Homo sapiens: one gene and its partners. The protein of the gene in region 3 purifies or fractionates together with the protein of the main gene of each other region. This does not show direct contact. Each region holds a gene or a part of one and is shown on either strand. Other genes may lie near its edges.

Evidence for each region. The genes of interacting proteins can lie anywhere in the genome.
Region 1: the proteins of SLC7A9 (region 3) and ROBO1 purify together in Homo sapiens (affinity purification with mass spectrometry; one large-scale study listed by BioGRID and IntAct). This does not show direct contact.
Region 2: the proteins of SLC7A9 (region 3) and TTC17 purify together in Homo sapiens (affinity purification with mass spectrometry; one large-scale study listed by BioGRID and IntAct). This does not show direct contact.
Region 4: the proteins of SLC7A9 (region 3) and SHROOM1 purify together in Homo sapiens (affinity purification with mass spectrometry; one large-scale study listed by BioGRID and IntAct). This does not show direct contact.

The regions. Positions count from the first base shown.
Region 1 is NC_000003.12:78,596,739-78,599,868, forward strand, and holds the end of ROBO1 (roundabout homolog 1 isoform a precursor), read right to left. Parts: intron 2,190-3,130; coding exon 2,175-2,189; 3' UTR 501-2,174; downstream 1-500. UniProt on the Homo sapiens protein: Receptor for SLIT1 and SLIT2 that mediates cellular responses to molecular guidance cues in cellular migration, including axonal navigation at the ventral midline of the neural tube and projection of axons to different regions during neuronal development.
Region 2 is NC_000011.10:43,365,420-43,368,919, forward strand, and holds part of TTC17 (tetratricopeptide repeat protein 17 isoform 1 precursor), read left to right. Parts: intron 1-3,500. UniProt on the Homo sapiens protein: Plays a role in primary ciliogenesis by modulating actin polymerization.
Region 3 is NC_000019.10:32,831,768-32,835,267, forward strand, and holds part of SLC7A9 (B(0,+)-type amino acid transporter 1), read right to left. Parts: intron 1,557-3,500; coding exon 1,382-1,556; intron 1-1,381. UniProt on the Homo sapiens protein: Associates with SLC3A1 to form a functional transporter complex that mediates the electrogenic exchange between cationic amino acids and neutral amino acids, with a stoichiometry of 1:1.
Region 4 is NC_000005.10:132,824,645-132,827,647, forward strand, and holds part of SHROOM1 (protein Shroom1), read right to left. Parts: exon of another isoform or gene 2,964-3,003; 5' UTR 2,817-2,963; exon of another isoform or gene 1,944-2,816; 5' UTR 1,633-1,943; exon of another isoform or gene 1,539-1,632; 5' UTR 1,497-1,538; coding exon 519-1,496; intron 430-518; coding exon 374-429; intron 178-373; coding exon 1-177. UniProt on the Homo sapiens protein: May be involved in the assembly of microtubule arrays during cell elongation.

The DNA of each region.
Region 1 (3,130 bases), on a different chromosome or scaffold from region 3:
CTTTAATAATGTATAACCTGGTATATGATAGGTATTGTTAAAATTTTACGTGAATTCGTAACAAGAAAGCAGATAGTTACTGATAAGCATTTCAGAGTTATATAATTAATTTTCTTGCTGACAGAACATAGGTGGCTCAAACTTTACAAATCACATTTATCTAGTTGAATCCCAATTATTTTAGAAATAGATGAAATAGATTAACTGAAACTCAGATACACATACATAAACAAAAATAATATACCCTTAATATTAAAGAAGACTTAGTCTCTGATCCAATTATTCACTTCTAGGTCTTGACTGATCTTACATTTTTAATTTCAGAGGACTTAGGTAAAATTTTGCTTACAGTAAAGCCTGGTTATTCATACAACTAATTGAGAATTTTCACTCATCTGATAATACAGGGGTGAAATGTTAAGACAGAACGACTTTGTGATTAAATGGAATAAATTTGATCAGCACACAATGAAAAAAGAAATCAACACAAGAAAGAAAGATGTATTTGAGAACATTTTTAATAAATAATGTGACAAAATTACTTTTCTGATTATTGGATTTTCAGTATGCAAAATTATGGCTAAAAATAAGGGGCTTCTTACATGAACATAATGAAAACATTAATCACATGGATTGTTCCCTTAGTACTGCACGCCTTTTCTATGGAACTTTTTCAAATTATCTAAATGAACAAGTTTGGTTTTGGTGAACACCAGCCTTTTTTTTTGTGGTTCAGTTTTGTTTGGCTTTGTTTTCCACTGGGGTCAGACCTGATACTTATCTATCTATGAATAAATGTACATTTTTTTCTTCAAATAGCACCAATTATAAAATCAATGATATTCATAAAATGACAAAAAAGGATCATAGAAATCTACTAGTCAGAGGGCATCATTTGTCAATTGAAAGCAAGTAATGCCTCTATTAGAGATTTTAAGGAAATCTTGTAGGTTTCGACATTGGCCACAACAAACTTAAACCTCTTTTTTTCTTTAAGTCCAGGAAAAGTAAGAACCATTTGGTTCATGGCCCACAATAAAGTATGCATGTTACTTCACCATCTGTCATTATTCAAATATTCCAAATACAAACATAGAGCATTAACAAAACAGGTTAAAAACGCTTCTCAACATTTTTTTTTTCAATAAGACAAAAAAGGTTAATAGTTACAATGGTTTACAAATAAAGTTTAGTGATTGTGCTTTTAAAACCAAAAAAAAAAAAAAAAAGAGAGAGAGATTAAAAACAGTGCATTACAAAAACAAAAATCAAACTTCCTTAAGTGGCACTTCTGAAAGTTGAACTGACACTACCAGAAGAAATTTAGGCCAGTTAAGACAGGGATGTTCTTACTCAATTGGTCATTAAAAACATCCACTTGTTTGTAATACGTATTTATAATTACTTTTTGATGATTGAAAAATAGAACAAGGTTTTACTAGGTTTACTTATGACAATGACTAGACAACCAGAGATCCAACTGGCTTAGCCCTACTTATCCAAAAGTACATTTCCAATAAGAATATACTTCAATGATTGAAATGAAGCCAAAATAAAATACCACCAGGGTTTGCAAAGAGTAAATATTTACAATGTTTCTACCCCATTCGAATTGTTTGTGGTTCTGCATTTGCTATATTTTTAGTTTCTTCCAGCAAAGGGTAGTATGAAAAACTGATTTTGAAATCATGTTAAAATGAAATATGTTTTAATTTGCATTAGCAGTTGGCTATAGAAAGATTATACTTTGAGAGCCCTTGTGAGGTTGAATATCAACTTTCTATATTTGATCAATATCTTGCTATAAATTAGCTTGGCATATAAGCAGTGCAATGCCATATCTCAGCGGCAAAATGCAAAAGAACAGTTTTGTTCCCTCTTGCTGGCTGATGACTGAAGCAAGAAGTCAAAGCACTTTGCTTGCTGGAAGTAAGGTATAATGGTTTGCTCCAACAGCGAGGGGAATAGGAAGGCTCTTTGTAGGGTTAGGGATCAAACAACAACAATAAAAACCCAATAAAGTTTTTAAAATGATATCCCAATAAGAGGAATAAAAACGACAATTTGTACACTCTGATTGCACTGAACATTTTATCTGGCGTCATGTGTCATCTGACAGGAGGCATCTTGAGTGATGATTTTCACATTAGATCTCATAAGCCTCTTGGTTGTCTTCAGCTTTCAGTTTCCTGTAAGAGATACGTTATTGTCACATTTGAAAATAAATCTTAAGAGGATTGTGTTATATTTATTTATATGCATTTATTATTATTATAATTTAATGTGTCTTTTCATTTATTCAATGGACTATGTTGGAAAGGGCTCATGTCAACTAATTCATTCATCAACCTTAATTGGTCTTCACAGCAAATTCAACAAGTACCAAACTGGGTTCTGCACAGTGCCCCGGTGTTGCGTGGTGGGACACAGGGCTCTGAGAAGCGGGAAGGAATGTGTTGAGTTATCTAATCCCCTCAGCCCCAAGTCAACATTACAACTCTGCTTTTGTTGGTTTTAAATACTGGAGTTAACAGTAAGGCCATTCTGTTCCCCCAAAAGGCTACTTCTATTTTAAAATAAACTAAGACCTGAAAAACAACTTCTCTGTTTGCAGGAGGAAAGTCTTTCTCATTCTAAACCTCAAAATCGAAATACATTGAGCTTTATAGGACTTTCAATTAGACATAATGGCCTATACCTTTTCAGCTTCTACTATAAAAAGTTGTCATTTGACACGTATTTATCTACTTGAGTTTAACTATATTTATTAAAAAATTTTCCTCAACTTTTATTAAATTGAGAAAATACAATCTTTGAATGGGTGAGGGGAGAATTTATGATATGTCAAGGCTAACAAGAGAGTATATCTTTGACGTAAGAAGTTTCCTCCAACTGGGGAGGTCAGTGTCACAGACTAGGCATACACTTTCAGAAGTGTAAAGGTGAAGGACAGTTAGCCAAACCAGCCACATTACCCTGGTGCTGACTATGGCAACTTCCTCACTCACATCATATAACTCTGTCATCTTACTGGGTTTTTATAGCCTGCTACAATGCTATGAATTATAATAGCTCTAGATCAACAGCTCTTACTTCTTAACAATGTGTTTGCCATATATGTTTCTTATCT
Region 2 (3,500 bases), on a different chromosome or scaffold from region 3:
CACCACACCCAGCTAATTTTTGTATTTTTTGTAGAGACGGGGTTTTGCCATGTCACCCAGGCTGATCTTGATCTCCTGAGCTGAAGCAATCACCTGCCTTGGCCTCCCAAAGTGCTGGGATTACAGGCATGAGCCGCCATGCCTGGCCAGCTCATCTCCTTCTTAACTTTGTTGTTTTTGTTTTTGTTTCTTTGCCCTTGCTCTTTTTCATACTCACCCTTTAGATAAGTAGTTCTCAAACTTTACCTTGTACAAAAATAATTGGGGAATTGGGAGTTGCTTGCTTAAAATGCAGATTTCCAAGACACCCAGAGTATCTGATTCAGTAGGTTGGTGGTAAAGCGAAGGATTCTACATTTTTATCAAACTCCTTGGGAGAGTATAATGCAGGTAGACCACACATAGTCTAAGAAATTCAGTTTTAGATATTGCCATCCTTCCAGCTTCTGTTCCAGTTTTTTTAAACTCTGTACATACACCTGAGCATCAGTTACCATATGTATGCTGAGAGTATCTGCATTCCTTTTGTAACTTAGTTTTTTTCTCCAGAGTTGTAGATTTAAGACCTTTTTTTTTTTTTGAGATGGAGTCTTGCTCTGTCGCCAGGCTGTAGTGCAGTGGCGCAATCTCGGCTCACTACAACCTCCGCCTCCCAGGTTCAAGCAATTTTTCTGCCTCAGCCTCCCGAGTAGCTGGGACTAGTTCACGTCAGAAATCTAGTTGTCTTTAATTCCTTAGTCTCCCTTAGCCATCACCAAGATCTTTGTTTTACTAATTATATTTTACTTCTTCCCATAGCTACTATCATTACTCTAATTCAGGCCACCTTATTATTGCCGCAGCTTCCTGTTCTTCTCCTTTGTTTTATTTAATTAAAAATTTTGAAACCATCCTGGGCAACATGGTAAAACCCCATCTCTACTAAAATACCAAAAAATTAGCCGGGCATGGTGGTGCGCACCTGTAATCAAAGCTACTCGGGAGGCTGAGGTGGGAGAATCGCTTGAGCCCGGGAGGTGGAGGTTGTAGTGACCCAAGATAGTGCCACTGTACTCCAGCTTGCGTGACAGAGTGAGACTCTGCCTCAAAAAAAAAAAAAAAATTGAATTCAGAAATAATGCATGGCATTGTAAAAATAAACATCCACCATGCCAGCATGGGAATATTTAATAAAGTGAAATCCCTCCACCTCTATGCACTCTCACTCCCCAGGGAAAGCTACCTTTAATAGTTTGGTGCATATCCCAGGATATGGTCCAAACTCTTTCTATTGACAAGGTTTTGGTGGCAGGGAGGGAGACAGATTCTCGAACATATCTTATGTGACCTGGCCCTTCCTCTCTAGCCTTATCTCGGGTCATCCTTGAGTACCCCACCCTAACCCTAGAGTAACACACACAGCCATACTGACTTAGCTTTTGTGAGCATCCCCAAATATGCCGTGTTCTCACTTCTTCTGGGCCTTTGCATATGTTGTTCTTCCCCCAACACTCGAGTCTAGCTGAGTCATACTCGTCATAATATAAACATCATTTTCTCAGTGAAGCTTCTGGTATGCCCAAATTTGAATAAGCTGTTCTATGTGCTTCCATAGCATCCTGAATTCCTTTATGAAAGGATCTACCATACTGTGTTGGGCCTACCTACTTAGGTAAATGCCACACTAGACATTTCTCAATGAATCCTTATAGTATTCAGTAATATTTTAGTCATCTGGGGACTAAGCCTAAAAGAAGCCTCAGACTTCCATGTCTTTAAAGCTTTGAGTCACGCATTATTGAATCAGCCCGTAGGCCCTCAGAAAAGGTGCACAGTAGATGAGAAGAGCCATAATTTCAGAGATCATTCCTGCTTACCTACTGTAGTCATGTTGTGTTATGCAAGGGAAATCATCCTCGCTGTCTTTGTACCAGTTTAGATATCTAAAAGGTCAACTTTAATGCGCAGGCATCAAAAAGCAAAAAGTATGGGGCAACAAGAGACAATGAAAAAGATAAGCAGAAGAAAATAATCAGAAAAAACAGAGGCGTGGTAGATGAGAAATGGCAGCTGCACTGTTGAGGAGGGATTAGAACCAGCTGTGGGGTTCAGCAGTTGTTGCAGTTTAGAAGTCACTCTGGTGAAAGTAAACAGAAGGCGCTCTGATAGTGAAGAATAAATAAGAGGGCTCACGAGCTGCTCACGTCAAAAATTAGAACAACTTTGCATTCCAAAATGTTAAGGAGCAGGGTGTAAGCTAAAACCTGCGTCTCAGCTGTACTCCTTGATAGCAGAAGTGAAAACAAGGGGAATGTCTGTGTGTGTGTGTGTGTGTGTGTGTGTGTGTGTCTCTTTTACAGACAGACACCCTAAAAGAGTTATCTGTGCTCGTGGAGTCTCCTCTCTCTTCCTTTTTTAAGCCCCCTCCAATTCATCCTTCATCCCTATAACTCTTGTCAAGATACCCAGAGCCTATGCTCAGTTCTCACTAATCTTAAGTTCTTAGCAGCCCAGCATTTGTCTTCATATCTTACTCAGCTATTTTCTTACATGCTTACCTAAAAGAGTGGCTGACACATAGTATACACTGAGGAAACACTGAGTAAGGGAGAGAGAATGTGTGCAACTAAGCAACTTTTTACACCTGTAATAGCTCTTACATGCATTAGCATACAGAAGAGCCAACACGTATTCCTGGTTTTTCTTCTCAGTCCCTGGCCCTGACTTCTCATTTTCTTCTGCTGAATTCACCTTTTCTTGATGAGTCTTAGGTGTTGGTGTGCCCCTTTTCTTCCCTCTGTACATATGTTCACCAGATGATCTTTTGCAGTCTCGGGGCATAAAGTACCATTTATATTCTAAAGACTCTCAAATCTTACGTGCAGTTTCAACTTCTTCCTGAACTTCAGACTCATATATCCAACTGCCTACTGAACATCACCATTTAGTTGTCATCACAAATACATCATGTCCTAAACTAAACTCTTGATTTTCTACCCCACCACACCTGATCTTCCCCCATTCACAAAATTGCCCAGGTCCAAAATTTTGGTATCTTCTTGACTCTTTCTCATATCTCAAACCCAACGTAGTAATAACTTGTCAGCCCTACTTCCAGAATGTTTCCTGAATCCAGCCATGTCTTTCCACCTCCATTTCTGTAATTCCAGTCAATACTGTCTTCATCTCTTTGCAGAACCTATGCAGTGGCTTCCTACCTGGTCTCCTTGCTTCTACTTTTGTCCCCTAGATCTGTTATCTCCAGAGCAGCCAAAGTAATCTCTTAAAAAGCACAGCTGGTCATGTCACTCCCTTTGGGATAGGAGGGAAACAAAGAACATCAGAAAATCTTCAGTAGTTTCCCATCATACTTAGATTAAAATCTGGAGTTTTCCTTATGGCCTACAAGGTCCTGTAAGATCTAGAACCTGGCACCTGTCTTCTCCTCCAGCCTCAGACACCACTTTCTTTCTTGTGTGGTGTGGTGTGCTCTGCCTCAGCCATACCAGCCCTCGGGATGT
Region 3 (3,500 bases):
TGGGCCCCAGCCCAGTTCCCCAGGCCAAGGCCATGACTTTTTGTGTGTCTTTGCAATGCTGCTAGGCCTCTTAGATGATGTCTGCATATCAGACAAAGGAGAATGGTGTTTCAGGATGAGACGCATGATGGTGGGAATATGCCTAATGCTACTGAACTTTACACTGACAAGTGGCTGAGATAGAAACGTTTATGTTGTGTGTCTTTCGCAATTAAAAAGAAAATGGGGCTGGGCGCAGTGGCTCATGCCTGTAATCCCTACATTTCGGGAGACTGATGCAGGTGGATCACCTGAGGTCAGGAGTTCAAGACCAGCCTGGCCAACATGATGAAACCCCGACTCTACTAAAAATACAAAACAACAACAAGGAAATTAGCCGGGTGTGGTGGCAGGCGCCTGTAATCCCAACTACTCAGGAGGCTGAGGCAGGAAAATCGCTTGAACGTGGGAGGCAGAGGTTGCAGTGAGCCGAGATCGTGCCAGTGCATTCCAGCCTGGACAACAAGAGCAAAACTCCATCTCAAAACAAAGAAAATGGGCCGGGCGCAGTGGCTGACATCTGTAATCCCAGCACTTTGGGAGGCCGAGGTGGGTGGATCACCTAAGGTCAGGAGTTGGAGACCAGCCTGGCCAACATGGTAAAACCTCATCTGTACTAAAAATACAAAAATTAGCTGGGCGTGGTGGTGCACACCTGTAATCCCAGCTACTCGGAAGGCTGAGGCACAAGAATCGCTTGAACCGGGAGGTGGAGGTTGCACAGTGAGCTGAGACCGCACCACTGCACTCCAGCCTGGGCAACAGAGTGAGACTGTGTCTCAAAAAAAAAAAAAAAAAGAAAGAAAGAAAGAAAAAGAAAAACGGCCAGGTACGGTGGCTTAGGCCAGTAGTCCCAGCACTTTGGAGAGCCAAGGTGGAAGGGTCATTTGAGCCCAGGAGTTCAAGACCAGTCTGGGCCACCTAGCGAGACTCCTTCTCTACAAAAAGTAAAAAAAATAGCCAGGTGTAGTGTGTGCCTGTGGTCCCAGCTACTTGGGAGGCCCAGGTGGGAGGATGGCTTGAGCCCGGGAGTTCAAGACTGCAGTGAGCTATGACCATGCCACTGCACTTTAGCCTGGGCAACAGAGCAAGACTGTGTCTCCAAAAAGAAAAGAAAATGGTGCTTTCCCTTCCTACTTATTACAGTAATTGACAGGAACAAAACAATCAAGGGTGGACCCAGAGGTGTACAGTGAGGGCGTGGGCATGTGTCCTCCTGGGACGAGGGAGATCTGCCAGCAGGGTGAGACACTGTGACAGAGGTCTTGGAGTCAGGACAGGTGAGGACGCCGTGCCTGCCTGCACCTCACAGAGGCCAAGCGGCCCTTCTGTTGGTACTTACTTGAGATTTTCTGAGCCCATCCAAACTTGTAGTGGACAAACAGGAAGTAAAATAAAAGGCCGCTTAATATAAACAGCACACAGTAGAGGTACTCCCAGGTGGGCTTGCTGATGATTGGAGCCAGAACCAAAAACACAGAGATGAGTGTCATCAAGACGGGAATGACTACGGGCACCTGGAGACGAAAAACAGGTCATGGGTACCCATTTTCTTTTTGAAATTTTTCATGATAAAAAACCGATTTTTATAAAAAGAGTATGAACTCCATGTACCCCCTCCTCCAATTTCAATCATTTTAATGTAATTTTGCCAATCTTATTTCATCTATACCTTTTAAAAATTTTCTTTACTTTTTAAAAAGTTTTTTGGCCGGGCATGGGTGCTCACACCTGTAATCCCAGCACTTAGGGAGGCCGAGGCCGGTGGGTCCCTTGAGGTCAGGAGCTCAAGACCAGCCTGGCCAACATAGTGAAACACCATCTCTACCAAAAACACAAAAGTTAGCTGGGCGTGGTGGCAGGTGCCTGTAATCCCAGCTCCTCAGGAGCTGAGGCAGGAGAGTCGCTTGAACCCAGGAGGCAGAGGTTGCAGTGAGCCGAGATTGCACCATTGCACTCTAGCCTGGGCCACGGGAGGGAAACTCCATCTCAAAAAAGAAAAAAAAAAATAGATAAACTGTTTAATGTTTTAGCATCCACTGATGATCGTTGCCTTCATTGTTTCATCAGGGTTTGCAAAATGGTGATTTTTCTAATTTGTAATTTCTTCCTCAATTATCTGAAATGCTATATGAAGTACTTCAACTTTCTGGTTATTCTGAATTGCAGTTCATACAGGAAAGGCAGGATTAGTGCTGTATTCTGTGTGTTTCCAGAATGACAAGTTGGGCCCCTGAGACCTCCAAAGGCAACTCCAGCCTGTGGGTTTTTCTATACATGGTGAGTTTCAACCCGTTGTAGTCATTGTTCACGTTGTTCAGAAGGTCCTGTGCGGGGCGGCAGGAACCCCTCACACTGTCCTGGGCCCTGGGAATGGGACGCCAGTGCTCTTCAAAAGCCTCTTTGTTTTCTGGGTGACAAGAAGTGCCATACCTGGGTTTTCATTTATCTCTCCAGAGCCAGACGTGGGTTTTCATCCATTTCTCCAGAGAGCTTTGTTTCCTTTTAGCAGGAAATGGCATTTAAAGACCATAACCTGGAGGCTGGCTGCAGTGGTTCGCTCCTGTAATCCCAGCACTTTGGGAGGCTGAGGCAGGCAGATCACTTGAGTCTAGGAGTTCAAGATCAGCCTGGCCAACATGGTGAAACCCCGTCTCTACTAAAAATACAAAAATTAGCCGGGCGTGATGGCAGATGCCTGTAATCCCAGCAACTTGGGAAGCTGAAGCAGGAGAGTCGCTTGAACCCGGGAGGCGGAGGCTGCAGTGAGCAAAGAATGTGCCACTGCACTCCAGCCCAGGAGACAGAGTGAGACTCTAAAAATAAATAAAGACCATAACCTGGGTGATTGGAGTACTCATTATCCTTTTTCAAGGACAGAGATTAATTTTGGTATTCTCTTATTAGGAACAAAGTTAAGTTTGCTGGGATTGTTTTGTTTTCATTTTTAAGTGTCATTGCATTTTTCCTTTGACTGTGTTTTTTTGTTTGTTTTGTTTCCCAAGACAGAGTCTCGCTCTGTCGCTCAGGCTGGAGTGCAGTGGCGTGATCTTGGCTCACTGCAACCTCTGCCTCTTGGGTTCAAACAGTTCTCCTGCCTCAGCCTCCCAAGTAGCTGGGATTACAGGCGTGTGCCAACATGCCCAGCTAATTTTTTATTTTTAGTAGAGACAGGGTTTCACCACGTTGGCCAGGCTGGTCTCGAACTCCTGACCTCAAATGATCTGCCCATCTTGGCCTCCCAGAGCGCTGGGATTACAGGCATGAGCCAATCACACCCAGCCCCTGAATTAAACTTTTAATTAATGGATTTTCGGTCTTCAGCTACCTTTGCATAGGCTGGACCTAGTCATGATATATTATCTTTTTAGTGTAACTGGGTTCTGTTTGTTAACATTTTATTTTAGATTTTTTATATCGTTATTCCTAAGTGAGATTGGTGAGTACATTTCCCTTTTTTG
Region 4 (3,003 bases), on a different chromosome or scaffold from region 3:
TCTGGTGGTGATCTCATTCTGACCAGTGGGGCCTCTTCTAGGAACACTTCATCAGGAAGGGAGGGGAGCCAGGCAGGCACAATGCAGGTCTCTGAGACCCTCTGTTCACTGTCAGCAGGGCTGCTCTGGGGTAACTCTGCAGGATACATCACCGCAGCCTCTTTCTGAGGCAAGAACCTGGAGGCAGGGACCCCATAGTGACCACAGTGAAAGGAAGGAAGCTCTTGGTGTTGCACCAGGGAGACAGTAGGGTATTTTCAAAATAACCAGAAGGCTCAGACTGAGGGTAGGTAGGAAGCCCTTTCATTTTTTGGGCAAAAGCTATGCAAGCTGCTTCCCCCCAACTTGGTCCAGAGTGGTCCGTGTCTCTCACCTGGAAAGTTTGGTCTGAAACAATGGTCTGGGGGTTTCTGCTCCTTGGGGAACAGCCTGGAAGGGTGAACAGTCGACTGAAATGTGGCTCAAGTTTTGTTTCCCAGATGCTCCCCTCACCAGCCTGCATCTCCTGACTTCCATACCTGGACAATGGGTATGGTCCCTCCTGATCCTCCCCAGGAACCCAAGACTTCGCCTGAAGCGCTCCGACTCCGACTGGCGGGCCTGAAGGCATCACCGAGCTTCAAGGACCCGGAGTCCAGGTTCATGGAGCCTTGGGGTTGCGTCTCGGGCAGCCATCCGACCTCGTGATCTTCAAACTTAGCCAGCGCCGGATGCTGGAACTCCAAGGGCTCGGGCCCAGGGAGGCCAGAGCTGGAGCAGGCCTCACCCAGGCATTCCCGCGCCGGCCCACCGCCCCGACCCACACGATCCAGCTTTCCTGGCTCTGAGAAGCACCACTTCCGCTGCTGGTTGGCGAGGGGACCCCGGCCGGCAGTTCCTGGCGCGGGAGCCCGGGAGCGCGCCGGCTCCCCCTCCCCGCCCGGGTGGCTGAGCGAGGCGGAGCGCGGGTGAGTCGCCGGGGGCCGCGCTGGGACAGTGGGCCGCAGACGGGCGGGCAGGCTCATGCGGAGCTCCTTGCGCTGGAACGACGTCTCCCGGAGCACTCGCCGCTGCGCGCCCTGAAGCCGCTGGCGGTAGGCGGCCCTCGAGGCCGGCGGGCTGGGCGGCTCGGCAGCCTGCGCCGCGGCCTCCGCCTCGGCCGCCAGCGCGTACAGCAGCGGGGTGGCCTGCCTGTTCAGTGGTCCCGGGGTCCCCGGGACCTCTGTTGGCTGCGGCCCACTGCGGGCTGCAACCGCGGGCCGGGGCCGCGGGGATGTGCAAAGGGCAGCGTCGGGCGGGGCGGGGCCCGGGCCGCCCCAAACCACACGCACGTAGTCCCAGTCTAGGTAAGGAAGGAGGTCTGTCCCCGGCGACTGCGTGCGCGGCTCGGGGCCGCCGGAGGCTGCGGAGAAAGAGCTGTAGGCCGAGTCCGCGCGCATGGACAGATGCCACAGGTCCAGGCTGCTAGTGGACGAGGCCGGGGAGGCGCGGTCGCCCCCAGGTCCCAGGGCCTCCATGGCTGCGCAGATGAGTGCTGAGGCTGGGTGGCTGCGTGGGTCCTGGGAAAACACAGATGTGGTGCCGGGTGAGGAGCTCCGGGTGAGGGCTGGGACAGCCTGCTGGCCCCGCCACCACGGACGGCCAGACACTTACACTTCCCCTCCCTGGTCACACCGTCACAAGCGCTGGCATCCCCCAGATTTTGGCAGAGTCACCTTGGGATCAGAGGTGGCAGAGGAAGTAGGACCAGTCCCAGGGAGCACCTCTGAAGGTTGAGGGCCCAGCTCAGGGGAAGGAATTGGGACCAGCTCATTCCCTGCCAGGCTCCCCTTGCCCACACAAGCAGCCTTTACCCTGAGACCTCCTGGAACGCTGAGAATGTACCCATGTTCCTTTCCTCCCCAACCCTGTTCCACCCAGGCTGCTTCCTGGCCGTTCTGTTGGCTTCTCCATGTGATCTTTCCCTGATAAACAATGGTCAAGAACACTCTTGTGACCTCAGGGGAGCTAAGAAAGGAGGGGTGGGGGAAGACCCAGGGCAAGGGGCAGAGGCAGCTTCACAGCCTTCCTCCCTCCCTCTGTGCCTGTTATGTTCCAGGTGCTTTATATAAATATTTATTTTGATCGTTGCAACTGCTGTCTGCATTTTACAGACAAGGACAATGAGGTTCTGAGAGGGAAATGATTTGTCCAGGGCCACACAGCTGGGACGTGGCAGAAGCCTGCCTGGAATCCAGGCCTGCCTCCACGCTCACTGCAGCCAGAATCAATTTCCTAGAAGCAAGCCCTGCTGAAAGGCAGTTTACCATCCCTCCTGTTCCCCAACAGCCTGAATCCTCCAAGGAAGCCCACACTCCACTATGGGAAAGTCACCCCTACCTCCCCATACACTATTGGCAGATTCCAAAATAATCTGGCCCCCACTTCTCAAACTCTGCCTTTCGTCTAGGAATGATGGGCCGACCCCCATCTTTGCCCTGCTTCTATTCTTGCTTCTCCTGTAGGACTCAGCTTAGAGGTCTCCTCACTTTTTGGGACTCCTACAGTGTGCTGAGCTGACCCCCACCCCACACTGTCCCTGTTGGCTTGCTTCTGATTCCCTCCTCCCATTCCCACCCCTGAGCTTCCTGAGAATGGGCCCTGCTCTTCCTCATTGCTGCACTCTCAGTGCCCAGCAGAGTCCCTGGCATACAGTCAATGTTAAATATTTGGGCCGGGTGCAGTGGCTCACGCCTGTAATCCCAGCACTTTGGGAGGCCGAGGTGGGCGGATCACTAGGTAAAGAGATCAAGAGCATCCTGGCCAACATCGTGAAACCCCATCTCTACTAAAAATACCAAAAATTAGCTGGGCGTGGTGGCACACGCCTGTAGTCCCAGCTACTCGGGAGGCTGAGGCAGAAGAATCGCTTGAACCCGGGAGGCGGAAGTTGTAGTGAGCCGAGATCGCGCCACTGCACTCCAGCCTGGCGACAAAGTGAGGCTCTGTCTCAAAACAAAACAAAACAAAACAAAACAAAACAAA